4 linked regions of the Homo sapiens genome follow. The protein of the gene in region 3 purifies or fractionates together with the protein of the main gene of each other region. This does not show direct contact. Each region holds a gene or a part of one and is shown on either strand. Other genes may lie near its edges. The genes, in order: CLCC1, TMEM214, SEMA7A and ATP11C.

Evidence for each region.
Region 1: the proteins of SEMA7A (region 3) and CLCC1 purify together in Homo sapiens (affinity purification with mass spectrometry; 2 studies listed by BioGRID and IntAct, with this or other methods). This does not show direct contact.
Region 2: the proteins of SEMA7A (region 3) and TMEM214 purify together in Homo sapiens (affinity purification with mass spectrometry; 2 studies listed by BioGRID and IntAct, with this or other methods). This does not show direct contact.
Region 4: the proteins of SEMA7A (region 3) and ATP11C purify together in Homo sapiens (affinity purification with mass spectrometry; 2 studies listed by BioGRID and IntAct, with this or other methods). This does not show direct contact.

The regions. Positions count from the first base shown.
Region 1 is NC_000001.11:108,960,484-108,967,547, forward strand, and holds the start of CLCC1 (chloride channel CLIC-like protein 1 isoform 1 precursor), read right to left. Parts: upstream 3,002-7,064; 5' UTR 2,878-3,001; intron 1,987-2,877; 5' UTR 1,826-1,986; intron 1-1,825. UniProt on the Homo sapiens protein: Anion-selective channel with Ca(2+)-dependent and voltage-independent gating. Permeable to small monovalent anions with selectivity for bromide > chloride > nitrate > fluoride.
Region 2 is NC_000002.12:27,028,756-27,035,965, forward strand, and holds the start of TMEM214 (transmembrane protein 214), read left to right. Parts: upstream 1-4,209; 5' UTR 4,210-4,260; coding exon 4,261-4,411; intron 4,412-5,311; coding exon 5,312-5,511; intron 5,512-6,379; coding exon 6,380-6,530; intron 6,531-6,838; coding exon 6,839-6,973; intron 6,974-7,210. UniProt on the Homo sapiens protein: Critical mediator, in cooperation with CASP4, of endoplasmic reticulum-stress induced apoptosis. Required or the activation of CASP4 following endoplasmic reticulum stress.
Region 3 is NC_000015.10:74,430,957-74,438,375, reverse strand, and holds the start of SEMA7A (semaphorin-7A isoform 1 preproprotein), read left to right. Parts: upstream 1-4,417; 5' UTR 4,418-4,457; coding exon 4,458-4,635; intron 4,636-4,671; exon of another isoform or gene 4,672-4,786; intron 4,787-7,419. UniProt on the Homo sapiens protein: Plays an important role in integrin-mediated signaling and functions both in regulating cell migration and immune responses.
Region 4 is NC_000023.11:139,783,049-139,790,071, reverse strand, and holds part of ATP11C (phospholipid-transporting ATPase IG), read left to right. Parts: intron 1-583; coding exon 584-745; intron 746-1,728; coding exon 1,729-1,880; intron 1,881-2,827; coding exon 2,828-2,899; intron 2,900-4,772; coding exon 4,773-4,846; intron 4,847-6,804; coding exon 6,805-6,908; intron 6,909-7,023. UniProt on the Homo sapiens protein: Catalytic component of a P4-ATPase flippase complex which catalyzes the hydrolysis of ATP coupled to the transport of aminophospholipids, phosphatidylserines (PS) and phosphatidylethanolamines (PE), from the outer to the inner leaflet of the plasma membrane.

The sequences.
Region 1 (7,064 bases), on a different chromosome or scaffold from region 3:
AAGCCTAATTCTCTAAGTGGTTAAGAAGTAGGTGACAAAGGGAGTGTGTAAACTGGAGAGAGGCTCCAAGATGGGAGTGCATGAAATTAAGGTTACGGGAAGGGTTCTTCATAGGCAATGAGGTTATATACTCCATAAATAGAAATGAATGAAGATGGATGAAGACAAAATTTCTAAAGTAAAAAGAGAAACTGACAGATTTCATATTATAATATGATATGAAGTGGACAGAGAAATTAAGAGTAATTTGCATTTCTAACACTGTGAGGAGGTTAGGATGGGGGAAACGGAGATTTGGAGGGGAAAAAAGGTACTACAGGAGGCATTATACAAAGGGAAGTGAATAAAAAGCCTGTCAAGCAGTTGAGATTTTTTTTTCTTTTTTATAGAGACAGGGTCTTGCTATGTTGCCCAGGCTAGTCCCGAACTCCTGAGCTCAAAGGATCCCCCTGCCCGCCGCCTTGTCTTCCCAAAGTGCTGGGATTACAGGTGAGCCACTGTGCCAGCCAGGCAGTTGAGTTTTGACTGTGACATCCACAAAGTCGTACTATTGGCAACTATGTTACTTTCTACAGTAATAACCAGCAGTTCCATAGATTTCTCCAGGGATAGAGATTAGCAATGCAGAAATGATGGAAGACAGGAGGGTAAGACAGAATAGAAGAATCAGCTAGAAATTCAAGCCCTCCTGCCAGATCCCCATGGTCACTGATTGAAGGCTGGAACTCCTTGAGAAATCCTAAAACGAATCTCACACTTCCTCCAAACAAAGCTACATCTAAACCTGCTGAAGAGTTTGTTAAAAAAAAAAAAAAACGATTCTGATTCAGTAAATCTGAGGTAGGTCTGAGATCTCCACTTCTAACAAGCTCCTGGTGATGCCGCAGACCACACTCTTGAGTAGCAAAGTGTTAATCGAAAGTAACCATCCTAGCTAGTTTCGTTTAATGGTGGCACCTATGTCATTCTAGTACTTGTCAGGGGACACTACTCTTTCTCTCTCCCGCAGTCCCTACTATTTTTACCATTTCTCTCCTGTCTCAGGCTTCGGTACTAATAATTTTTAAATTATAATATGTATAATAGTAGCTAAAGGCCGGGCACGGTGGCTCACGCTTGTAATCCCAGCACCTTGGGAGGCCAAGGCGGGCGCATCACCTGAGGTTGGGAGCTCCAGCCCAGCCTGACCACCATGGAGAAACCCTGTCTCTACTAAAAATACAAAAGTAGCAGGGCGTGGTGGCGCATGCCTGTAATCCCAGCTACTCGGGAGGCTGGGGCAGGAGAATTGCTTGAACCCAGAGAGTGCAGGTTGCGGTGAGCCGAGATCGCGCCATTGCACTCCAGCCTGGGCAACAAGAGCAAAACTCCGTCTAAAAAAAAAAAAGTAGCTAATATTTTGTTACTATGTGCTAAGCACTGTTACATTAATTTAATCCTCACAAAACTACTGGAAGTAGTACTCTTATCTTCACTCATCTTCATTTTACAGATCACACAAAGTAACTTGCCTAAGACCACCAAGCTAGTAAGTGGTAGAACCCAGACTGGCTCTACCTAAACTGCCTCTCCAGGGCAAAAGTACTAATGGCTCTCAGGGGCTTCTCTGAGAGGATAGGGTCTTAGAGTGGAGAGGACCTGTTGGAACGACATCTCCACAGAGCGGGAAATAGGGAGAGTAGTTTATAGTAGCTACTAGACTGGAGAACTACCAGGAAACACAGATCGTCGTGCAGACGGCCAGGCAGTGAGTAGAAATGGGCACAAAAGAAAAAGTCTTTGGTTTCAACGAAAGCACATGAGTAATGGGAAAGGCAAGACTAACCTGGATTAGTAGAGTCAAATCCTGTTTTAGACTAGAAGTACCAGGGTATAAGTCGGGAGGCTGCAACTTATTTCGTATGCTTATGCAGTTTCTTGGAACCATGGCTCTCAAACTTGCGAATTTGCATTTTTAACAATTTCCCAGATGACGATAAAGCTAGTCTGGGAAGAACACTTCATAATCACTATTATAAAGAAAACCTGAATTGTTTTTCACCACCCAGTAATAAACCTACAGCTTATGGTGTGTCTAACTTTTTACACTCAAATCAGATTTGGAGCCAGGCGCAATGGCTCACGCTTGTAATCCCAGCACTTTGGGAGGCCAAGATGGGAAGATCCTTTGAGCCCAGGAGTCAGAGACAAGCCTGGACAACACAGGGAGACCCCTTCTCTACAAATAAAATTTACAAATTAGCCGGGCCTGGTGGCGCGCACCTGTGGTCCCATCTACTCAGGTGGCTGAGGCAGGAGAATCGCTGGAACCCGGAAGGCGGAGGTTGCCGTGAGCGGAGATAGCACCACCGCACTCCAGCCTGGGTGACACAGCAAGACTCCGTCTCAAAAAAAAAAAAAAAATCCATTTTGGAGGTTGTTTTGTGTCCGTTTTTGTTGTTGTTGTTAACTGTGTTAATTCACAGATTTGAAGTTTTAGAAAATTAACTACAACTAAATCCGAGCTATTCTGCTGACAGCATTTATTCAAATTATGCTTAAAGTTTTCAGAGATAACCAAAGCCAACAGAATTCAACGTGCGCTCAGGTCTCGCTTTGCCCTCGCTGTGCCTTCTCCGTAGGCCGCTCTCTGGGCCAAGCACCTCCCCGGAACGCGCGCAACCGCGGCGGACAGGCAGCCGCCGGCGCGGGAGCTGAGGTAGGAGCCCGGGGCACCCACAGGCCGCAGCGGACGCACGCAGCTAGCACGGTCCCCGCCCCGGGTCGCGCCTGCGGCCTCCCCAGCGTCTGCGCCGCGAGTCCGCTGGACCCGCCAGGGCGTAACGGCGGGTAACCCGCCCCACCCGCCGCACAACACACCCAACTGCACGGACTCACGTCCGGGATCCCCTGCCTGCCTCTCGAGGAAGACACCTGCCCAGGCCGGCCGCAGAAGAGGTCGCACAGCTTGCCGCCGCCCAGGGTTTCAGCGTGCTTCCTGGGCCTCGTCATCGAATTGTTCGGCTGACGGCTGCGTGTCCCTCCCCCGTTGCGGGCCGCTGATTGGCCTCGTTGATTGGGCGGGGCTAGTAGCGGGACCGGCCTCTGCGCGCGGGTTATTTTCGCCGCGGATTTTCTTTTACTTTTCATCTGCGGAACTCTTTCTGCGAAGGAAATCTCGCCTGGAACTCAAATATATACAACGGATAGGAAACCTATTTTCTTACTATTAATATATTTGATAAGTTTGAATGTGTAACATTCGCCATGAAACGCAAGCATGATTTTTTTTTTTTTGAGGCAGAGTCTCACAGTGTTGCCCAGGCTGGAGTGCAGTGGCGCGATCTCGGCTCGGCTCACTGCAACCTCTGCCTCCCGGGTTCAAGCAATTCTCCTCTCTCAGCCTCCCGAGCAGCTGGGACTACAAGCGCGCACCACCACATCCAGCTAATGTGTATTTTTAGCAGAGACAGGGTTTCACCATGTTGGCTAGGCTGGTCTCGAACTCCTGACCTCAGGTGATCCGCCCGCCTCGGCCTCCCAAAATGCTGGGATTACAGGTGTAAGCCACCGCGCCTAGCCACAAGCATAATTTTTTAAAGGGAGGATCACGAATGACAACTGTAGTTCTACTCAGGGCAGGACAAGGGAAAGGTCTGCACACTGTAGGGCAGTTGGAAGTAGTTTTGTTTTTGTCTTTAACTGCTGGCCTTGCAATCTCGGGAAACTGTGAAGATGGTAAAATTTACTATCTTAACCATTTTTAAAGGTACAATTCAGTGGTATTAGATACATTCACATTGTTATGCAACCATTACCACCATCCATCTCCAGCACTCATCTTGCAAAACTGAAACTCTGTACCCAGTAAGTGGTAACGCCTCATTCTTCCCCTCCCTCCTTCCCAGCGACTACCATTCTTTCTGTCTTTATGAATTTGACTACTCTAGGTATTTCATATAAGGACTCATACAGCATTTGTCTTTTTGTAACTGATTTCACTTACCATAATGTCCTCAAGGTTCATCCATGTGGTAACGTGTCAGAATTTCTTTTAAGGCTGAATAGTATTCCATTTTATGTATATACCAGTTCATTCAGTCATCTGTTAATGGATAACAGGTTGTTTCCACTTTTGGCTACTGTGAAATAATACTGTAAACATGGATATACAAATATCTGTTTTTTAACCCTTTTGGGTATACACACAGATGTTCAAATATCTGTTGCTTTCAACTCCTGAATATATATACACAAGTGGAATTGCTGGATTATGTAGTAATTCTATTTTTAATTTTTTGAGGATCTGCCGTACTTTTTTTTTTTTTGAGATGGAGTTTCACTCTTGTTGCCCAGGCTGGAGTGCAGTGGTACGATCTCGGCTCACCACAACCTCTGCCTCCCGGGTTCAAGCGATTCTCCTGCCTCAGCCTCTTGAGTAGCTGTGACTACAGGCGTTTGCCACCATGCCTGGCTAATTTTTGTATTTTTAGTAGAGATGGGGTTTCACTATGTTGACCAGGCTGGTCTCGAACTCCTGACCTCGTTATCCACCCACCTCGACCTGCCAAAGTGCTGGGATTACACGCATGAGCCACTGCGCCCGGCGGAACTGCCATTCTCTTTTCCATAGTGGCTGCAACATTTTACATTCCCTCCAAGAGTGCACAAGTTCCAATTTCCCCACATCTCCACTGACATCTTTTTATTTTTGTATAGTAGCCATCTTAATAGGTGTGAGGTATCTCACTGTGGTCTTGATTTGCCTTTCGCTAATGACCAGTGATGTTGAGCATCTTTTCTTGTGCTTATTGGTCATGCCATTTGTATATGTTTGTTGGAGAAATGTCTATTCAAGTCCTTTACCCATTTGTTTTGTTTGTTTTATTTTGTTTTGTTAAGAGACAGGGTCTCGCTTTGTCACCCAGGCTGAAGTGCAGTGTCATGATCATGGCCCACTGCAGCCTTGAACTCCTGGCTTTGCCCATTTTTTAATGGGTTTTTGTTGTGTTTTGGTTCCTTATATATTCTGGATATTAACCACCTTATCAGATAGGATTTGCAAATATCTTCTCCCACTTTTTCTTTTCTTTTTTTTTTTAGAGACAGGGTCTCCCTGTATTGCCCAGGCTGGTGTCAAACTCCTGGGTTCAAGTGATCCTCCTGCCACAGCCTTCCAAAGTGTTGGGATTACAGGCATGAGCCACCATGCCCGGCCCCATCTTCTCCCTCTTAGTGGGTTGCCTTTTCACTCTGTTGTGTCCTTTGGCTTCTTACTATAAAACGAAAATAAAATTCTAAGCCCCCCAACCAACTGAATAGGCCCATCCTCTCAGCCAAGGGCATTCTAAAGTAAACCTGAGGCCAGTTGCAGTGGCTCATGCCTGTAATCTCAGCCCTTTGGGATGCCAAGGCAGGTGAATCACTTAAGGGCAGGAGTTCAAGACCAGCCTGGCCAACATGGTGAAACCCTGTCTCTAGTAAAATCACAAAAATTAGGCAGGCAAAGCGGTGGGCCCGTAATGCCAGCTACTTGGGAGGCTGAGGCAGGAGAATCGCTTGAACCTGGAAGGTGGGTGTTGCAGTGAGCTGAGATCATGCCATTGCACTCCAGCCTGGGTGACAAAGCGAGACTCTGTCTCAGGAAAAAAAAAAAAAACAGAGACCTTAACACTGACACACTTTGTAGCAGTAAGATACCAATGTGACAGCAGGTCCATCCCCCCACCCCCACCTCTGAGTTGTCCCATCTTTCTGAACTGAACCAATGTATATTTAACATGTATTGATTGATGTCTTACGCTCCCTAAAATGTATATAAAACCATGCTGTAGCCCAAACACCTTGGGCACATCTTCTCAGGATCTCCTGAGGCTATGTCATGGGCCATGGTCACTTAAATTTGGCTCAGAATAAATCTCTTCAAATATTTTACAGAGTTTGACTCCGTCGACATTACAATTTTGGAAAAGTAAACATTTTAAAAATAAAATTTGGGGGCAGATGTGGTGTCTCATGCCTGTAATGCTAGCATTTTGGGTGACCAAGATGGGAGGACTGTTAAGAGGCCAGGAGTTTGAGACCAGCCTAGGCAACATAGTGAGACACCCATCTCTATAAAAAAAATTAGCCCCACATTGTGGCATGTGCCTGTAGTCCTAGCTACTCGGGAGGCTGAGTGAGGCAGGAGGATCATTTGAGCACAGGAGTTCTAGGCTATAGTGAGCAAGACTTTGTCAATATAACACAATGCAATAGAAAAATTAAACATTTTAAAAATAGAAATAATCTCTCAACTTGAGGCAACACACACACACACACACACACACACACACACACACACACACACATAAAATTGGAACAGACCTCTAAATGTCCTCCCTGGGAATAATTAAGAACCTCTGCACTACCCATCCACCCCAATTCCCCTTCCTTGCACTGCCAAATGAGATGGACCCCAAGAGTATAGATACTTCAGTCCTCTCATTTTCTCTTTTATGTGAACCTCAAAGAACCTAGTCACCCCATGCAGAAGACATGTGGAGACAAACAAAAAAGGACATATGTAACCAGCTATTTACTGAAGCAAATATAACAATTTCTGGTGCTTATTATTTTGAGAGGGAGTCTTGCTCTGTCGCCCAGGCTGGAGTGCAGTGGCACAATCTTGACTCACTGCAACCTCCACCTCCCGCATTCAAGCGATTCTCCTGCCTCAGCCTCTCGAGTAGCTGAGATTACAGGCACATGCCACCACAGCCGGCTGATCTTTTTTTTTTTTTTTTTTTTAAGACAGGGTTGCACCATTGTTGACTAAAAGAGTCAAACTCTGTAAAATATTTGAAGAGATTTATTCTGAGCCAAATATGAGTGACCATGGCCCGTGATACAGCCCTCGGGGTCCTGAGAACATGTGCCCAAGGTGGTCAGGGTACAGATTAGTTTTACATATTTTAGGGAGGCATGAGACATCAATCAAATACATTTAACAAATACATTGGTTTGGCTTAGAAAGCCGGGACAACTCAAAGCAGGGGCTTCCAGGCTATAGGTAAATTTAAACATTTTCTGGTTGACAATTGGTT
Region 2 (7,210 bases), on a different chromosome or scaffold from region 3:
CAACAGACTGAAACCCTGTCTCAAAAAAAAAAAAAAAAGAAAAAAAAGTTGCAGATGGAATTCAGGAAGTTAATCTGCTGACCTTAAAATAGGGAGAGTGTCCTGGTTTATCCAGGTGGGTCCAATGTCATCGCAAACGTTTATAAGAGTGGAAGCAGGAGGCAGAAAGGGTCAGAGTGGGCAGGGTGTGGTGGCTCATGTCTGTAATCCCACCATTTTGGGAGGCCAAGGCAGGAGGATCACTTGAGCGCAGGAGTTGGAGACTAGCCTGGACAACAGCGAGACCCCATCTTTACAAAAAATAGAAAAATTAGCCGAGCATGGTACTACATGCCTGTAGTCCCAGCTACTTGGGAGGCTGAGATGGAAGGATCATTTGAGCCCTGGAGGTCAAGGGTGCAGTGAGCCATAATCATGTCACTGCACTTCAGCCTGGGCAACAGAGCAAGATCCTGTCTCAGAAAAATAAAAGAAGAGGTCAAAGTGAAACAATGTGAGAGTGACTCACCCACTGTTGTTGGCTTTGAAGACAGAAGGGAGCCATGAACTCAGGAATGCAGGTGGCCTCTAGAAGCTGGGCAAGGCAAGGAAATGGATGCTCCCCCAAAGCCTCCAGAAAGGAACCCAGCCCTGCTGACACCTCGATTCTAGCCCAGGGAGACCTGAGTTAGACTCCTGCCCTCCAGAACTGGAAGATAACGCCCTTGTTTTAAGCCACTAAGTTTGTGGCAATTTGTTTTAGCAGCAATAGAAACGTAGTACAGTGGGTAAAACAGTGCTTCGGTGAGCTCACCCTTCTGCTTGCTCCCACACTAGACACCCATGTCCTCCTTGACCCAACATCTTTTGGGTCTTCAAACCCCACGGCGGGGCCTACCCAAGCCCACCTCCGTGGCTAGTGTCTAAGGCTGCTCTTCAAACACCCAGAACTTAAGGATGTAAAGCCACTCCCTTCTCCCCACCTCTTCCTGGTACCTCATACTAAGTGCTTCTTTCCTCTGGAACACTAAGATGGTGAACTGTAATTTTCTGTTTATACATTTGTCCCCCACACAGACTTCAAGTTCCTTACAAGCAAGTGAGCTATATCTTCCAGCTCCACCTAGCACAGGGCCTGACACAGAGAAGGTGCTTAGAAAAGGTTGCTGGATAAGTAAATGCATGATTTATATGTCCTAGATGCCAAGTTAGAACTGGTAACTTACTAGACTATTCCAATGAAAGATAGAGTCCCTCTCCCACCCTTCTGTGTGTCTCCACCATGGGGCAGCCCCCTCATTTGCCTCAATGGAAAGCCAGTTCTGTTTCTCTTCCAAAAACATGGTCTCTTCTGTGATCATACATGTGACACAGGAGGGGTCAAACAAAGAGAAGATATTGTTGTTGGTCTCCTGAGTACACCTAAACCAATGATCTGCAAAATGAATTGATTAATGATCAGTTCAAATATGGTCCTTGGCAAAGGCACTGTATCTCAGAGCTACCGGATGCAAAGTCAGCCATGGTCAGGCCTAAGGGGGCTGGAGGACAGGTAGAAGGAGGCAGCAAGATATGCTCATCTCCCACCCCCTGCCTTCCCCTACCAACACTTCACACAGCCACATTTACCCTTCCAAAAGAGTGGATTATGCCACCCTCTCACTGGTCTCCCAGGGCCTGAAGGATAAAGTCCAGATTTGGCAGGCAAGTTCCTTGGCATATGGGCTCAGATCCCTTTCCAAACTCATAAGAGGCTATTGTTGCATTGCTATAAAGAAACATCTAGACTGGGTAATTTATAAGAAAAGAAGTTTAATTGGCTCACAGTTCTGCAGACTGTATAGGAAGCATAATGCTGACATCTGCTTCTAGGGAAGCCTCAGGAAGCTTACAATCATGGCGGAAGGCAAAGGGGGAGCAGGCACATCACATGGTAAAAGCAGGAGCGAGCAAGCGAGCGAGAGAGAGAGGTGGTGGGGAGGTGCCACACACTTTTAAATGACCAGATCTCATGAGAACTGGGATCCACCATGAGGGATCCACCACCATGATCCAAACACTTCCCACCAGGCCCAACTGCCAGCGCTGGGGATTACAATTCAACATGAGACTTGGGCAGGGACAAAAATCCAAACTATATCAAACCTCATCACCTCCAAAGTCCCATCAAGCACTGTCCCATTGAACTGCTTCCAGTTTACCACCCTCTAGGCCTTTGTTTTACATCAACAGATCCACACAACTGGCATTTTCTCTCCACCCACCCTAACCCTCAGCCAGTGAACATTCAATTTTGTTTTTTGTTGTTGTTGTTGTTTTGGGTTTTTTGAGACGGAGTTTAGCTCTTGTTGCCCAGGTTGGAGTGCAGTGGCACAATCTCGGCTCACTGCAACCTCCGCCTCCAAGGTTCAAGCGATTCTCCTGCCTCAGCCTCCCAAGTAGCTGAGATTATAGGCCTGCGCCATCATACCTGGCTACTTTTTTGTATTTAGTAGAGATGGGGTTTCACCATGTTGGCCTGACTGGTTTCGAACTCCTGACCTCAGGTGATACCCACCTCGGCCTCCCGAAGTGCTGGGATTACAGGCGTGAGCCACGGCGCCCGGGGAACCAATGAAAATGCTATTTCTCAGAACCTATCTCAGCTGCCGTCTCCTTCGGGAAGCTAAACTCCTTCCTAAGGAATGCATCGCTCCCTCAGCTGTTCATCCTGTAGGAATTTGGACTCTCTTAGTTCTTATCATAATACCTCAGTATGGCAGGTAGGAATCTCATCCTCACACACAGTTGTACATGAAATAGCACATTTCCTTAATTGTGATAAGTCACTTTGATTTTATCTTCCCTCATTCTCCTCTGCTGGCATGCTTCAAGGTTCTGAAGGCTCCCAGGATACTAACACCCTCCACGTGGATGTCTGAGCAGGAACCTGTCTGCAGATGCCTCAAGTCTGGGGCTCTCCATCGCTTCCCTGACACATCTGGAACTTGGGATTGACTCTTATGGTGGGAGGCAGAGCCTGTTCTTTCTCATTGCCTGGAAGGGGAAACCCGGCCCTGGCTGTCCCAGACCCCCAGACTTTTCTCAGCCTCCCATGAGAAGAACTCAGAGGCCAGGAGCGGTGGCTCACTCCTGTAATCCCAGCACTTTGGGAGGCTGAAGAGGGTGGATCACTGAGCCCAGGAGTTTGAGATCAGCCTGGGCAACACAGCAAAACCCAGTCTCTACAAAAAATACCAAAGATTAGCCGGGGGTGGTGGTGGGTCAGGTGATCCGTGGTGGGGGATCACCTGAGCCCTAGAAGTTGAGGCTGCAGTGAGTCGTGATCGCGCCACTGAACTCCAGCCTGGGCGACAAAGCAAGATCCTGTCTCAAAAAAAAAAAAAAAAATTATTCTCCATTCTCCACCTCCTACCCCAGCTCCCCAACACTCTGCCCTTTCCTCAAGCCCCCATCCTCTTCCTTGTTCTTTGGCAATAGATTTGTATAGCCCATTAAACCCGAGGTTTAATCACTAGCAACAGTAAAGCCAGCACTTTCCTAGAAGGAAGGAAGCATTTAATCTTCAATCTCTCCCTAGATATGAGGAGCACTACTTCCCTTCCATCCTTCCAGCTCTACGAGAAAGGAAAGAAAAACAGTGGCCGGGCGCCGTGGCTCACGCCTGTAATCCCAGCACTTTGGGAGGCTGAGGGGTGGGGGTGGGGTGGGTCACTTTAGGTCAGGAGTTCGAGACCAGCCTAGCCAACATGGCGAAACCCCGTCTCTACTAAAAATACAAAAATTAGCTGGGCTTGGCAGCGGGAGCCTGTAGTCCCTGCTACTCGGGACGCTGAGGCACGAGAGTCGCTTGAACCTGGGTGGCGGAAGTTACAGTGAGCTGAGATCGCGCTACTGCACTCCAGTCTGGGCGACAGAGCGCGGCCCTGGCAATCAATCAATCAATTGATCAATAAAGGAAAGAAAAACAGAAACAGTTCTACCAAGTCTCTCAATGCCGTGGCCTTCACATCGACGCTCAATGAACGTTCTCAGAAGGGAATCTCCTCTCCTCCCGGCCTCTTCGCCTGGGCGGGGGCCGCAGGCTGCCGCGGAAGCCTCTTCCCGATGCTCTTCGCTCAGGAGAGCCCGGCCCAGGAGAGGGACTACAAGTCCCAGGCTGCCTTGCGGCGGGCGCCGGGCGCCGGGCGCGCGGTCCTGCGAGGAGACGTGGCAGAGTGCGGCGCGCTCGCGCCGGACCGGAAAGCCGGGGAAGTGGCCGAGGAGGGAGGGCTGCGAGCCATGGCGACCAAGACGGCGGGCGTGGGGCGGTGGGAGGTAGTGAAGAAGGGTCGGCGGCCTGGGGTCGGCGCCGGCGCCGGCGGCCGAGGAGGCGGCAGGAACCGCAGGGCGCTCGGGGAAGCAAACGGAGTGTGGAAATACGACCTGACCCGTGAGTACCCGCCCTGCCCCGCCGCCTACCCCAGGCCTGTCCGGCAGGGTCGCAGCGAGCGGCTCCCAGAACCTGGGCGCGAGCTCGCAGGCACATCCCCGAGCGCCACGCTTGCGTTGTCTCTTTGGAGCCTCACGGGAGGCAGACAGCTCCAGGGAAGGTTGCGGTCCTCACCTCCCAGATGAGTAAACTGAGGCCCAGTGAAGTTGGATACCTTGGCCAGGGTCATGTGTCAGAGGGGCTAGGATTCCGGTCCTCAGACTCTCAGTTCACTGCACACACTCTCCCAGCTGCCCAGGGCCCTAGCTGGTCTCTCTGGGCAGGTGTCTGAGCTTTGAAGAGGTACTGTGGATCATTATACACGGTGCCCCCTCTTTAAGTAACCAGCAGGTCATGGAGGAAGGGACAGGAGGCCCAGCAGTGGGAGAAATGACCGCCACACACTCAACACTCACCAGGAATTATAAGTGACACCTGGTTCTTCCACTGAGGAGTGGAGAAAGATTGCCACTTGTTGATTATAGAGTTGTCATGTCGGAACCAAGAGGCGTTAGGGTAGGACCAAGATGGAAAAAGCTTGTCTTCCCAGACTAGTAGCCACTCACTGAATAAGGCAAACCTCTATATCCAACCTCTCTGCTTGTTCCTACATACTCTGATTTGTCTAATGAAGAACTGCCCCATCTTTATGAAAGAGCCCATAGACTCAAGAGCTGTAATGAAAGAAGCTACCAGGAGAACAGCCTGCCCTGCTCCTTAAGCAGTCCAAGAGGAAGGGGCTTTGAGACAGGCTCTTCCCTGGAGATGAATTAGGTGGCAGTGTGGGGAAAGGGACCACTGATAGGTGAGGCCTTGGGGACTCAAGGGTGGCCTGCCTTTCTCTACCTATCTTCACCCCAGCTGCAATCCAGACCACAAGCACCCTTTATGAGCGGGGCTTTGAGAATATCATGAAGCGGCAGAATAAGGAGCAGGTCCCACCCCCTGCTGTGGAACCTAAGAAACCAGGGAACAAGAAGCAGCCAAAGAAGGTGGCAACTCCTCCCAACCAAAACCAGAAGCAGGGCCGCTTCCGCAGCCTGGAGGAAGCACTGAAAGCTGTGAGTGTGCCTAGACATGAGACGCAGAAAGAATGGGGGCTTGAGATTTAGAGAAGATGAGAGGAGGGGGAGGTGGATGGGCAGCTGAGATCCTATGGGATTTGAAACACTTTAAGGGTTGAGAGGAGTTCAGGAAAAGATGGAAACCCCAGGGGAACAGAATGCCTGCACTTAGAATAGAAAGGAAATGGAAAATTTATAGGGAAACATGGATTGGTAAGAGGAAAGCCTTGAAGACCCAGGAACACCAGGGAGGAGATGGAGAAACTGGTTATGATTCTCTGTCCTATGGAAATACTGATCTTTCATTTTCTGTCTTGTCCTCTGTTTTCCTCTTTTTTTTTTTTTTTTTTTGAGTTAGAGTCTCCCTCTGTCGCCCAGGCTGGTGTGCAGTGGTGTGATCTCAGCTCACTGCAACCTCTGTCTCCTGCCTCAGCCTCCCAAGCAGCTGGGATTACAGGCGTCTGCCACCACGCCTGGCTAATTTTTGTATTTTTAGTAGAGATGGGGTTTCACTACGTTGGCCAGGCTGGTCTTGAACTCCTGACCTCAGGTGATCCGCCCACCTTGGCCTCCCAAAGTGCTGGGATTACAGGCGTGAGCCACCGCGCCTGGCCCTCTGTTTTCCTCTTGAACATGTGGAGGGCCTGAGAGGATAGGGCCTGAGATCAGCATTTTCAGCTGTCCTGTTCCATTCTTAAAGATGTAGGTACAGCAGAATTGCAGCATTCCATGTTCTTATGCTTAAAAATGGAATCCCTTCTTCCTACTGCCACCTAGTTCAACCATTTTCCCACCCCTACCCCATTTCTTTACTCCCTCACTCACAACTCGCCATGGTGGGGGGTTGGGGGATTGTCCCTGGCAGCTGGATGTGGCAGACCTGCAGAAGGAACTGGACAAGAGCCAGAGTGTGTTCTCTGGAAACCCATCCATATGGTTGAAGGACCTGGCCAGCTATCTCAACTACAAGCTACAAGCTCCTCTAAGTGAACCCACGCTGAGCCAGCATACTCATGGTAAGTCCTTCCAGCTTCCTCAAGCTCAGACAAGTTCAAATAAATTCAAAAAGGGTGGTATAACAGATCCCAGTGCCCCACACTGTCCTGATTTCCATGGGTGATTTGGGCTGGTCTCAAATCATCGTGACTGTGAATGTTTCTGGGCCTCATTCTGTGATCCTCCCTCTGGGCCTCCTCAGAGGAAGGATCCCAGCCTCAGTGCAGGGGCCTTTGCCTCCACTCACCATTCCCAGGGAGAGCACCACAGTTCTCAGAGCTGATGGGTGTCTGGTCCTAGCACTCACATTGAGGCCTATGGGCCTTAGATTATCCCTACAGCCTGGTGAGCCGGGAGCTACGTGGGATCATCCGAGGGCTGCTGGCGAAGGCAGCAGGGTCTCTGGAGCTCTTTTTTGACCACTGTCTGTTCACCATGTTGCAAGAGCTGGATAAGACACCAGGTGAAAGGGGCACGGGAGGGATGACCATCTTGGGAGCCTCCTCCTTTTTTTCCTGCTTCCAGTACCACTCAGTGGTTCTGTTTCCAGCAGAGAAATGTGCTAACCTTAACACTTTTTGGAAAGTGTGGAGGAAGTTAGGAGTCAGTGGACCTGGGGCCTGGGCTCACCGCTGACAAATGGGAGATTTCAGGTTTGGGATGCCAAATAATGTGAGTAGGTGTGAGAATGTGTATCTCT
Region 3 (7,419 bases):
CTTGGCACTCCTTGCCTGACATGGTCTGCCAAGAGTTGGGCCAGGTATAGTGACTGTCGTGCCTGTGCCTGTGAGATAGTCACAGTGGGCACATGGTATGTTGGGGGTCCCAGATATGGGCCCCAGACCTGTTTTTATTTGCCCATATCCATCCTCCTTAACTTTTGAATTATTTGCCAATATTTTAAAAGAGAGAGTTTCAACAAAGAGTCAATTTTCTTTTCTTTTTTTTGATGGAGTCTCGCCCTGTCACCCAGGCTGGAGTGCAATGGCGCAATCTCAGCTCACTGCAACCTCCACCTCCCAGGTTCAAGTGATTCTCCTGCCTCAGCCTCCCAAGTAGCTGGGATTACAGTTGCGTGCCACCATGCCCGGCTAATGTTTACATTTTTAGTAGAAATGGGGTTTCACCATTTTGGCCAGGCTGGTCTCGAACTCCTGACCTTGTCAGATAAAAATGCATGTAGAATGATTAGGACAGAAATCATTGACCTTGTGATCCACCCACCTCGGTCTCCCAAAGTTCTGGGATTACAGCCGTGAGCCACCACCCCTGGCCTCTTTTTTCTTTTCTTTTCTTTTTTTTTTTTTTGAGACAGAGTTTCACTCTTGTGTCCCATGCTGGAGTGCAGTGGTGCGATCTTGGTTCACTGCAACCTCCGCCTCCTGGGTTTAAGTGATTTTCCTGCCTCAGCCTCCCAAGTAGCTGGAATTACAGGCGCTCGCTACCATGCCCGGCTAATTTTTGTATTTTTTAGTAGAGATGGGGTTTCACCATATTGTGCAGGCTGATCTTGAACTCCTGACCTCAGGTGATCCACCTGCCTTGGCCTCCCAAAGTGCTGGGATTACAGGCATGAGCCACCGTGCCCAGCCCTCAATTTTCAGCTTCTCTTGAAAATCATACTACCTTTCACTACTGGGTTTACTTCTTCATGGTTCCATGGGCTGGAGCTGAGTCGAAATTGCCTTATAGACAGCACAGGGTTCTGCAGACCCCAGCCCACCCACTCCCCTCGTTCTCATCAGTTCCAAGTCTCTGCCCCCTGCAATAGGTAGTAATGGTGGTAGGCAATAGGAATTGTTGCTGCTGTTAGTAGCCAGGAGGTCTGAATGGCCACCAAGCTCTGAGGCCTCAAAGAAGGGGTGGGATCTAGCATGGAGGGGGCTGTTGGGGATTGAATGCCCTCTGAGAGCTACTTCTAATCCTAAGAATTGGGATTCTTGGATCATCGTATCTGTGAAAGGAAGTGAACTGTGTGTGGGTGACCTCACGTCTGCATATGTTATCTCCTCACGGAATCCTTCTATCTCCCACAGGCCTCTTGTTTGAGGTGGGTCACTCCTGTGAAGGCCATGTGTAGCCATGGAATCAGGGCTGAGGAGGAGGTCAGATAACTCTGGAGAATGGAAGGATGAGTTAAGTTGGACCCTGAAAGGTGAGAGGCTTTAGTTGGAATGTTGGGGGGATTGCCCGGGGCTTCTGCCACTGCTTCAAGACCATGAATCTCAGGTCTGTGTGTATCCATTTCTTTCATTCCAAAAGGAGCCTTCTTGGATTGGGCTGTGCCTCAGCTGTCCATGGGGCTCAGGAAGTGATCCTTCTCAAGGTATTTTTCTTATCGATAGAAGCCCTGCATCATTTCTTCCTCCCTCCCCTGAATGTGGAATCATGGAGAAGGGAGGGACAAGAATGTGCCTCCCCATCAGACGTGTCAGCATCCACATGTGTTGCTTCCTCTGCTGGTCCACTTCCCATCACTGGCTGTGAGTGGGAATTGTGCCCCTGTTCTTGGTCCAGGCTCAAGAGCCAGCCTTGGCCTCCAATGAGGCAGGCAGGCCTCTGACACCACCTATACCATTCTGACTTGATTTTCCTATGCTGCCTGAGGCAGGAAAGTCCATGCCTAAACTCTGGTCATAGTGCCTGCCCCACAGTCTAGCTGCCTTTCCCTTTATAAAGTTATTGCCTCAAGTCATGGGCTTAGTTCTCTCCTCCCCTGGCTGCCTGCAGCCAACCGAGAGAGTGGGCTGCCATCTCGCCTGGCCCTTTGTCCCCAGGTTGGCTGGCTTGTGGGGAGGATGGTCTTAAGTACTACTTCCTTCCCCCCTACCCCCCAGTCTGGAAAAAAAATTATCTGGCATCTACCCCAGTTTCCATCTGCTACTCTGTTGATTGGGAGATTGAGCCCATTCCCTGGTCTGCCCTCCTACTCAGCACCTGGTGACCTGGGCCCTATCTAGGTCCTTCTGGGGATGGTTTGGACCCAGACTTCAGCCACAGACAGGAGGCAGCAGTGCCAGGGTACATCACACAGAGAGAAGTCAAGGGTGTGGGTCCTTGAGAAACCACCTGAGTTTCAATCCGTCCTGCCTCTAGTTGTGCGATCCTGGCACTTCACATCCCTTGTCTGTGCCTTGATTTCTTCATTTGTAAAGGGAGGTGACTAATAGCTCCTATCTCATAGGAGTGCGAAGATTGAATGAGTTGGGAGAGGCTATGAGATGGCACAGCACATAGGAACCACAGTGTTAGCAATTGTTATTGCAGTCAGAAAACCCATCTTCGTTCTACCATTTACCGGTTGACCTCGGGCAGGTCCGTCCTTGTCCCTCCCTGTACCTCAGTTTTCTTCTCTGCAGTGGAGTTACGCTCCCTCCCTCAGTGAGAGGAAGAGAGTGGAGGACTGGCAGAGATGAGGTAGGTGAATGTGGGTTATGTGTTGTGAGTTGCCATGCACATGGGCAGTGTTATCATTGATTTTGAATCCATTTGAATTCTTAGTTCCAAAAGGCAGAGACAGGTGATTTCTTAGTTTGCCCTAGCTTTGCATAGAGAGGACAGACACTGAGGGCAATACCTGTCTAGCAGGTGAAACCGAATGTCCATCTTAGAGGCTGGCCTGGGCCAGGCTCCACTGCTGGCTTCAGGGCCACAGGCTTAGGTGCAGGCCTGAGGAGGAGCTCTTAGACTGTCCACAGCCTCCCTCTCTGGGGCAGTGTGCCCCTGTGTATCAGGAGGCTGTTGGCTTCACCCAGTGGGCCAGGAACCTCACTCTGCACTGTCTCTGGAGGTACCTTGAGTTTACCTTCCTGGCCTGCTGGGGTGCCTCAGGACTCTGAGGGAAGAAGGAGGGGACAACTGGAAGCAAAATGTAGAATGGTAAAGCCAAACTTCTTGGTAGCAAAACTTTCCTGGTTCCAGGAGGTAAAAACAACAACCAAATGGTCCTGGCCCCATGGAGCAGGGCAGAGGGCAGAGGGCAGCCAGCCCACCGCCTTTGCTGGTGTCTGCAGTGCGTGAATCGTGTCTAGGTCTGTGAGTTCTGAAGGTTGGATGTTCACCTCTACTCCTTCCTCGGCCTGTCTCCTCTCAGTGCAGCTAGACATCCAGTAAACACTAGATAAGTACTTACTGAGCTGGGTGGATTTTCCATTCATGGTTCCCTGGGGCACAAGTGGAAGTGGTAGGTCTGGGCCCTGTCTGGTCTAGAGAGAGGAGACCCTTTTACAAAGGGCAGGCACGTAGTTCTGAGAGGAGGAGCTGATGGCAGAGCTGGCTGGACTGCTCAGGTAACTGCAGAGGGTCTGGGCCTGGACCCCCCAAGGGAGTCCCCACTGAATGGTCAGGTTGCCTGAGATAGCTGAGCCCTAGGCACTTTGCGGGCAGAGATCCCCTTAAGCTGCTTTGACCCTCCCTCCCCCACAGTGAGTGGGGCACGGGGGATGCTCCCCTCTCTACTTGGGGAAGGGGCCTTCCTAATTATATCCCCCTCCACTCACATGGAAATGAGTTTGGATTTTCTGAGCGTACACCAGCTGGCTTGGGGGGAGGCAGCCCAGAAGGCTGCTGGCTGGGAAAGGGAGGAGAAAGGAGAGGGAGGGGAAGGAGCCAGGCCAAGATGAAAAATTTCCAGTGTTCTCCCAGGCAAAGCAACAGCGGGTCCCTGAGTGCTCCCCACATATCATCGTTGTGCCTGCTGGTAGGCTCAGCAGGGAGCCGTGTCCACTTAGGCGAACGCATCCTCCGAGGACCATAGTCCTCAGGGTGCGAACCACTTAGCTGGCCATAGCAAGGTTGTTGGGTGTTGGACTCCTCTGCGCCCTTGGAGAGAGGTCCTCCACGACTTCTACGCCAATCTTTTTACGGGGTGCGGGGAGTGGAACTGAGGCCCAGAGAGGGGATAGGGCCTGCCGCCCCTGGCAGAAGACCACAAGTCTGGCTTGTCCGCAGCTGGGCTTTCCCCGTAGAGTTGCCCGGGAGAGGGTGGCGAAGGTTCCCCCAGCAGTTCCGCTCTCGCTCAGGAAAGCCAGTGAGGCGAGAAAAGGCTGCGAGGGGCGGGGGGAGGGGCGGGGTGGGGTCAGCGCTGGCTCCGCCTCCTGGCGCTTGGGTCTGCCTGCGGCCGGGCGCTGGCTCAGTCTCGGCTGATTGCCGCTGTCGCTCCCGGGGCCACGGGATGACGCCTCCTCCGCCCGGACGTGCCGCCCCCAGCGCACCGCGCGCCCGCGTCCCTGGCCCGCCGGCTCGGTTGGGGCTTCCGCTGCGGCTGCGGCTGCTGCTGCTGCTCTGGGCGGCCGCCGCCTCCGCCCAGGGCCACCTAAGGAGCGGACCCCGCATCTTCGCCGTCTGGAAAGGTAGGCGGCGCCGCGCGGCCGGTCAGGCGCGGGATCAGACGCTGCGCGGGGCGGGTGCGGAGTGTGCTGCACCCGGAGGGAGTGCGTGCGCGCAGCTCTGCGGGTCCCGGGCTGTCCCCGCGCTGTCCCCGCGTGGAGCGTGTGGGTTTGGGTGAGTGTGTGTGAGTGTACACGCTGGCACACCAGAGCCGGCTGTAACGCTGCGGCGAGCGAGCGGCGGGGGCCGGAGCCCCGGCTAAGTCGCACCAAGTCCCTGGCAGCCAGGAGCCGCAACGCCCGGGCGCCAGGGGAGGGGGCGGGCCCCTCTCTCGGCCCCGAGCCACTCTGGGTCCTCTGGCTCGGGGGCTTCGGCGGAGGACCTTTCCCCGCCTGGGACCCCAACCCGGGTACCCTCCTTTTGAGCTGCGGGCTCTGCTGGCGCGCGGGGCGCAGGCTGGGCCGGCAAGGGGGGCGCGGACCCCTTGCCGCCGCCGCCGCGCTTCGGCAGCGGGAACAAAGACCCCGCCGCCTGCCCCCGCCCCCGCCCCGGCCCGGAGCTCGGGCCAGGCAAGGGGGTGGGCATCCTGCAGCGAGCGGCGGGACATGGTGCGGTGCGGCGGCTTGGGGTACCAGGGCGCTGCCTCAGCAATGCCGGGACCGGCCGCTCCCCCCTTGCCCGCACGTGGCAGTTGTCACCAGAAATCGGCTCCAGCGTTGGGGGGCAGTGCCCGTTGGGTGGGGCACGGCCGTTGGGACCCCCAGGCGGTGGATCTAGGGCGGGGGTGCAGCCTTTAGGCCAGGGTAGATAATAAGAACCTGGGGGACTGGAGTCTCCCCCAGGGCACCTCAGTTTAGACCCTGTACTATGGGACAGAAAGCCGGTTAGGCGGGGGTTTGAGGCTTTCTGCCGCGAGGAACTGATCTCCCCTCCCCTGCATTGCACACAAATGCCTCCCCGCCCCCAGTCCGATTCGGCTCTGTCCCCAAATTTGGCGTGTCTGCGGCCCCCCTGTCGTGATGGTGGGGGACTCGCAGTGGGGGCTGGGGGAACTGGTCGGGTCTGGCCCCACCGGGAGCCTTTTGATGCCTTTGGCAGTTTGCAGGGATTGCGGGAGTCTGAGCATTATCTGGGGCAGGTATTATTAGCAGAGGGGAAAAAAAACCATACACAAAACGAGTGGCCCGAACTGCCGCAGTAGCTGAGGGAATGTGACTTGCCCAAGGTCACTGAGCAGTGTGGGAGCCCAGGTGCAGGCAGGGGCTCTGATCTGGCACAGGACCAGTCCAGGTTCTGGGTTAGGGAGGGGAGAAGGATTTAGGTGGTTCAGGGACCATGAATGAGGTGCTCTGGGGACCAGCTCGGCTACCCAGCCTGAGGTGCTCCTGGAGGAAGCCGAGCAGTGCTGCTAGAGCTCCGGCCGCCTGTACATGGAGGAGGCCTGCACACCCCTCTGCCATCCCAGCTCCAGCCCAAGCTTCCTTTGCCCTCCCAGCAGCTTTGCCTTCCCTCAGTCTCCTTGGCTGTCTTGGACATCATAGCGTGTGGGCACTCTGGAGGGGACAAATGGCCACATCTGAGTGTTCTGGAATCTTTCCCTCCATCAAACCCCTTGCATTTTGACTCTGTTTGCCTGTCCCAAAGTCTTCCCATGACCCCCCACCCCCACCCCACTTAATGCACACCCACTTCTTAGCACTTAATGCATACATCCCATCCTGGGCACTTAGTTCCCACCCTGAGGCTATTTAAAGTTGCTTTCAGTCCTCTTACCCACTTTTCGAAGCTCCCAGCACAGCTCCATGGCCTACCCCCCCGCCCGCAGTTCACTGCTGTAGCCACACTGGCTGTGCCCTCTGCTTAGTAATGCACTGTTGAGCCCCGCTGGCTGGGGTCTGCCAACCGTTCACCAGTCTTGTCCAACGACAGTCTGTGGTCTCCTTCACCAGTGCCAGGTGCCCCACTGGCCAGACAGGCCCTGCCATTCACCTGCCCCCCACCCCCAGGGCCACCAGCTGGTGATGGTGTGCCCGACTGACAGCTGCCTCCTGTCTCCTGTGGGGTGACACATGGCAATCGGACAGGAATGGGCTTGGGTAGGACAAACCCAGGAACAGGGTAAGAGGGGGTCTTTCTGGAAGCCTAGAGCTCTGTCTACCAGTGGTGGGTGGGAGTATGGTGGTATCCAGGAATGACAAAATCAGGGATGGTGGTGGTTCTGGAGCCATTTCTCTATGAGGCATAGATGGGGGTTTTAGTTTTGAGTCAGGACAGCTGTGGGGACTGGAATAGGTATGGAAAGTTCTTTATTTTCTGCTGCTTGGATCCCCAAGTTCTAGAGAAAGATTAAAGCAGGGAACTCTGAGAGGGGCCCAGCCTGCACTGATCAGGGAGATTGCTGCCTCTGCAGCTTGATGAAAGTCTGGCACAGCGTAGCTCAGGCCAGGGAGAGAGATGGGCCATCATGTACCTGCTGGGTGTCCTTGAGCTCCACACTTGTCTTTGACCCTTAGAGCCTGCCAGAGCAAGAAAGGCTGTAGGGATTGTCCCCCAAGGGCTGTCACTGACACATGGGCCAGTCAAGGATGTGCATGTGTGGTCCTGATCTTCCTGTAAGCAGGAACTGTAAGGGAGTAGATTGCAGGTGAGGGCTGGGGCTTAGCAGGAGGTTGGCATGCGTTTGTAAGCTGTGCACCCCTCTTCCATTTTATCAGTGGTTGGAGGAGCTAAAGAAGGCTTGGAACCCCAAGGTCAGAGGTGAACCAGCCTGTCCATGGGGAAACAGAACCCATATCCCCAGTCTCAAC
Region 4 (7,023 bases), on a different chromosome or scaffold from region 3:
GTTCTTAGTTTGATAAAATAGTCACTTTTTTTTTTTTTTCCTGAGACAGAGTCTCACTCTATCACCCAGGTTGGAGTATAGTGATGTGATCTCAGCTCACTGCAACCTTTGTCTCCTGGATTCAAGCAATTCTTGTGCCTCAGCCTCCCAAGTAGCTGGGATTTCAGGTGTGTGCCACCACACCCAGCTAATTTTTGTATTTCTAGTAGAGACGGGGTTTCACCATGTTGGCCAGGCTGGTCTTGAACTCCTGAGCTCAAGCAATCCTCCTGCCTCAGCCTCCCAAAGTGCTGGGACTACAGGCATAAGCCACCGTGCCTGGCCAATAGTCACATTTTTTTCTATTCATCTTTTACATTTGAGTAGATCTACCTTAGACATGTGATAGCATTTTGGTGTCTTTAAAAATACTCATTTATTCCTCATTTCTTTGGTAATATTGTCTCTGTAATTCCCTGACATTTGACAAGAAGTCTTAGAAGGGGTGATTTCCTATGGATATGAAAATAGCTTTGCGTTACAGCAAACTAAAAATTAGTCACACTGAAGAAACTAACAATATATGTTTGTGTCCTTGTTTTAGGTGGATTATGTATTTACAGATAAGACTGGAACACTCACTGAAAACAGCATGGAATTCATTGAATGCTGCATAGATGGCCACAAATATAAAGGTGTAACTCAAGAGGTTGATGGATTATCTCAAACTGATGGAACTTTAACATATTTTGACAAAGTAGATAAGGTGCATTTGCATTATTGTTTTATATAAGAAACCAATCTGTGTATGCATGTTAACATTCCATAGTAGAAAATAATTTTTAGGTGGACACATGACATAGACTTTTGTGTTTTTGTTTTTTTTTTTTGAGATGGAGTCTCACTCTGTTGCCCAGGCTGGAGTACGGTGGCATGATCTCAGCTCACTGCAACCTCCGCTTCCCAGGTTCAAGCGATTCTCCTGCCTCAGCCTCCCGAGTAGCTGGGATTACAGGCGCCTGCCACCATGCCTGGCTAATTTTTTTGTATTTTTAGTAGAAACGGAGTTTCACCATGTTGGTCAGGCTGGTCTCAAACTCCTGACCTCAGGTAATCCACCACCCTCCGTCCCCCAAAGTGCTGGGATTACAGGCATGAGCCACTGTGCCCAGTGACTTTAGAATAACTATTGTTGGATTCACCTTTCTTGTTTTACTGACACTTCTGAAATTTGTAAATGAGTAGAATTTACAAGTAAAGAGAATTGTGGGAAATGACATTTGGGTAAAAGCTTGCTTGTCTGTATGATCATAATTTTTTGTGCTTTGTCTTTTAAAATGTAAGCTCCTCCAAGAATGATGTCTGTTCAAATGATTAAAGTCTCAGGAGTGTCTAGGCATTAAATTAACCAGAGTCTCCCTACACTTGAGCTATTGCTAGATTGTGAATTAGATACTGAATGAAGTTTTTTAGGCCATGAAGAAGTCACTGCTTTGGCTTAGGTGGTGCCACAATAACCTTAATGAGTTAACACAGCCTATAGGGTATGCTAGCTGAGAACCAGGAACTCTTATTAGGTACTAGGAGAATATATAGCAGATTTGAGTGTTAAGAATTTATACGTATCTGCTACTAAGTTTGTTAGAAGTTACAACATTCTCTCACATTAATATATTTTCTCCGTTCACTGCCTAGTTACCGGGTGATCAAATTAAAAATAATAATCATTATTTTGTTGCTGTTCCACAGAATCGAGAAGAGCTGTTTCTACGTGCCTTGTGTTTATGTCATACTGTAGAAATCAAAACAAACGATGCTGTTGATGGAGCTACAGAATCAGCTGAATTAACCTATATCTCCTCTTCACCAGATGAAATAGCTTTGGTGAAAGGAGCTAAAAGGTAAAGTATACTTTCTTATACTTCTCCTAAGAAAGTGAAATCACAGGAGGACAGAAGTTATTTGTTTTTTTCCGTTTGCTTCAGTGACCTTAGCACATACATCTCCTATTATTTAATAAAAAACACAACTGCTTTAGCCAAAAATTTGTGGAAAATTCCCACACCTAACCAGTTAAGACTAAAAAGAAAATAGTTACAGGTAGGTATTACTTGCCTTACTATTTATGCATGCCAGCCAGAAGTCTGAATGTTCATACTATGTTTTGCAAATAACATAACAGTGGCCACTTTTTGTACAACACATGTTATTTCTGAGGTGCTCCCAGCAATTTTGACATCATTTGAGAACCGAAAGTCCAGTTTTACCCATGAGGTTCAAGATAATTAAGTGGCTCAAAGGTCACCCAGTGTGTTAGCCGTAGAATCAGAAACCCAAATTGTCTCTCCCTTGGTTACAATAATTGTGGCTGGGCATTGACTTTCTCTGTTATCAACTTATCCAGGAAAAGAAAGTACAGTTATATGTTGAGATCATATGAAAGAGAAGAAAAGCATAAACAAGCATGAGTTACCCCATTGAAAGTAATCATTCTAGACCAGGTGCGGTGGCTCACGCCTGTAATCCCAGCACTTTGGGAGGCCAAGGCGGGTGGATCACCTGAGGTCAGGAGTTCAAGACCAGCCTGGCCAACATGGTGAAACTCTGTCTCTACTAAAAATACAAAAATCAGCCGGGTGTGGTGACACACACCTGTAATCTCAGCTACTCAGGAGGTTGAGGCAGGAGAATCGCTTGAAACTGGGAGGTGAAGGTTGCAGTGAGCCGAGATCGCGCCACTGCACTCCAGCCTGGGCAACAGAGCGAGACTCTGTCTCAAAAAAAATAATAATAAAAAAATTAATCATTCTTTAGAGATACACAAGGTCTTTTTTATTGTTTTTGATAGGTACGGGTTCACATTTTTAGGAAATCGAAATGGATATATGAGAGTAGAGAACCAAAGAAAAGAAATAGAAGAGTAAGTAGCTCTGTGTTTGATGTTTGTCATTTCTTAACCCCATAGTCAAATTTAAGTGGATTCAGGCAGGGCAGCAAAGGAAATGATGCCACTAAAAATACAGGACCCTGCTCTCCCAGTTCAGAGTTTTATGTAAATATAGTTGGGGTAGAAGCCATGTTACATAGAATTGCAGAAACTGGAGTTTGAGGTGGAAATTCCAATCTGGTTCACATCTGGGTCCAGTAGCCAGAATGAGAGTTTGCCTGGAATGTTTCTCAAATTTAGATGCCATTTCAGGTCTCTAACACATGCTACAGGAAAAATCAGTGAATATATGTGAAACCTTCTGCTATCTAGTGTCCAAGCAATCACTCTGGGATTGCAAGCCCAGGCAATAAAGGCAGCTTTGCTGTAAACCAGAAGCCTTGTTTGGTTCGGAATGTTCAGGTGTGAGCCTCGGGGCAAGTACTCTGATGCTCCAGTGTCTTCACATTTCCTCTTTTGCCACAAAGACCCTAATGAACAAAGCCACCTTATCTTAATGGTGGATTTTAATTAGGCTCTGTGATTAATTTGAATTTCCTCATCTGAACTTGAAATATAATTATGTTATCTGACTTTCATTCTGGCCCCTAGGATCTCCTGAGACCCATCTCAGAAACCTGTAATATGTTTACAGGTACTTGGGTAATGCACCCTTTTGGAGAGAGATTCATAGAAGCCCAGAGGAAGGTTCTTGGTCTGACTGACAGGGACCCAGGGTCATTGTCAGAGTTTAGATTCTAGCCCATCTGCAACAGTGCCCACATCTGGCCAACAGCAAACCAGATGCCATGTTAGATGTCTTATACATATACTCCCGCAAGACTAATGACCCCCTCACTCCCACCAAAACAAGCTATGTAGTAAATACTTTTTTTAAAAAATACTAGTTGTTTATTTTCAAGGAAATATTTCCTCTCACTTTTTCTAATAACCAACTCTTATTTTAACTCTTCTGTGTCTCTCCATTGATTAGTTCAGCCATCCACACACACATTTGACCAGTCTCATCATGTCATTCCACTGTTTAAACCCTTTTATTGGCTTTCTTTTGCTCTTACAATACAATCCCAAATTCCAGAAATGGCTCACAAAGATGTGTTTCCAGCCCCTGCTTACCTTTCTTGCTTTATCTCTTACTATTCCCCTATTGATGAGTTTTTTGGGCATTGGTGAACTACTTAAAGTCTTCCATGGGCCATGTGCTCTCATGCTGCCGTGCTCATTCCCTCTACTCAGAATGCCATGGCCCCCTTTCTTCATCATATTACCCTTGCAGAACCCAGCTCAGGCATGTCCTCTTCCAGGAAACCTCCTTTCAGATGACTTCCTTCTGTGTTCTTATATCTTCCCTGTAAGTGCCTTTATTACAGTATTTGAGAAACTAGAAGGGTAGTTATCTCATTATGCTCTGTCTCCCTTATCATATGGTGACCCGCATAAGGGAAGGGACTCAGGCAGATTCACCTCTATTCCCCAGCACCTAGCACTGTGCCTGGCACTCCATACATAAATGCTGCTAAAATAATTGGCAGAGTGGGACTGTTTCTAGACCCCTCCAAATATGGCTTGGTGGGACAGCTCTTTATCTTCCATTTTTATGTGGTCATTCTCCTTACCATTTTAAGTAATATACTGAGGGGCTATAAATACCCCTTAACTAACACTGGTGTCCTCTGACAGCATGTTCTATGTTCAGAGAAATTCTGAGACAAAGGAAAGTACCAGTTGTGCACACAACCAGTGCTATCTGTTGATTTAAGATGTTTAAATATCTTAACATATTTCTGTTGTGCTTTATTTTTCTCAGTATATTCTAGGTTTTTTACTTTGCTCATTTCTCTTAAAGATATGAACTTCTTCACACCTTAAACTTTGATGCTGTCCGGCGACGTATGAGTGTAATTGTGAAGACTCAAGAAGGTACATGTCTGAAAAGCTTGAATTTTTCTCTTTGTTGATTTGTAGGCTTATTGGTTGATTCACTCTTTCAGGAAAGAGAATCATTTCATGTAGTAGTGTAGGATTAGTGAAAGTCATGCAAAGCAGTAGCTTTTGCATATGCTTTCATGTATTTTTTTAAGCACAGATGTTCTGTTTACCAAATTGTTAGTGACAGAACCCTTGTTATGACAGGGTGTGCCTTTTCTTGGTAGCAGAACCATATCCCTCTGCCTTGGGTGTTCGAACAGGAACTGAAAGGATGACTTTTATATGGTTCAGGGTACTGACCAGTCTACCAGTAATGTTTACATGCAGCCACCCAGCATAGTTGGATGGTTTGGGATTACTAGCAGCAGAATCCTTGAGTATAGGGAGTTGCTTGTTATCCCTCACTGACCTTCCTGGTTCCCCTACTGCTTGACACTCCCTGGAAACAGGTGAGGTAGAGAGGACTAAGGGCCTGGTTTCTGGGAAATGGCATTGCAGTTTCACTCCAGAGCTCAGGTTCTTTGTTGAGCAGAGTAAAGCTTGCCCTTTGCAGGGGAACTGGTACTGTAATCCTGGGCTCCCTCATGTCTTTGGAGGCACCATGGTGGTTTGCCTTCTGCTCAGATTCTGCAAGACCCATGGGCGAGCAATCCTGCTTTATTCGAAGGCTCTCAGATACGTGTGTGTGTGGTGTGCCGAGGTGGTTTGTTTTCTAAAAATTTTTGATTTATTTCCCAGTAATTTACGTTTTACTATTAAATTTTCTAAATTCCTTAATGTCAGAATGGGAGGATACAGACAGATCCTTGGGGGAACATATCCCACTTAATTCATACTTTGTGGTGTGATTGCAAAGTCATGAAATTGATTTTAATAAGTGACCATGGAGTTTGTTTTGTGAATTTTAAAATACACTTTGGATGTGTAAGAATAAATGAAAAAAAAAACACAACATTTCAAATACTTGCTATTCTTATGTGTGCATGTCCACATGTTCTACAGCAAATGGTGAAATGTCTGTGGAACTGGTCTACAAAGGTCATTGACCTCAGAGCTACACTTTTTAATTTGTTGACCTCGGTTGTTTCCCTTATAAGGATAAAGTGTCTGTCTTAGTGCACAACTGTGAATATTTCCTGGGTGTGTGAAGTGATCTAAAGCTGCAATTATACCAGCATTCTACAAAGCTATTCTCATCAGTAAAAACTATCAAGCCATTGTTTTAGAAGCTAGTTAATATAGTTTATTCAAAATTATTTCAGCTTGTTTGAGCTTGAGCTTTCTTCTTGACATCTGTAGATGCCATATGTGTGCTCTAGGCCATGGCTTCACTGCATTTTTTTTTTTTTAAGACACGGTATTACTCTGTCATCTAGGCTGGAGTGGCAAGATTATAGCTCACTGCAGCCTTGACATCCTGGGCTCAAGCAATCCTTCCACCTCAGCATCCAGCGTAGTTGGGTCTATAGGTGTGTACCACCATGCCTGGCTAATTTTTTAATTTTTAGTAGAGTCAGGGTCTCCCTGTGTTGCCCAGGCTGGTCTTGAACTCCTGAGCTTAAGTGATCCTCCCACTTCAGCCTCCCACAATGCTGGGATTACAGGCATGAGCCACTGCACCTGGCATACATTTTCAGAAGAAATTCAGATGCAGCTCCTTGACACAAGCCCAGCCCTCCATGAATTGGTGGGAGGAAGTATATTTTAACAGAGGTGCCTATTGTAAACTCTGGCTTATTAATTGTGTTCATAATGACCTTGAAGAGGTGGTACATGCCTTTCTGACAGACTGAAGGCCAAGATTTCTCATTCCATTTAGGTGAGTATTGCAAGGTGTGCTCAGAATATACAACACTTGGGTGAGAGAGACCGCTTTAAAAGTTACTCTTACTAAAACCACAATACCAGCCTTAAAATTCTAAGTCAAGTACTATGGTTCTTTATTTTAGGAGACATACTTCTCTTTTGTAAAGGAGCAGACTCGGCAGTTTTTCCCAGAGTGCAAAATCATGAAATTGAGTTAACTAAAGTCCATGTGGAACGTAATGCAATGGTGAGCCTATACTCCTTCCCCCACCAATAAGTAAGCAGAGAAATGTTGAAAATGACTATGTTTATTGGATTTCTGTTTAAATGACAGTTTAAATACATTTTAGCTTATTTTTGTG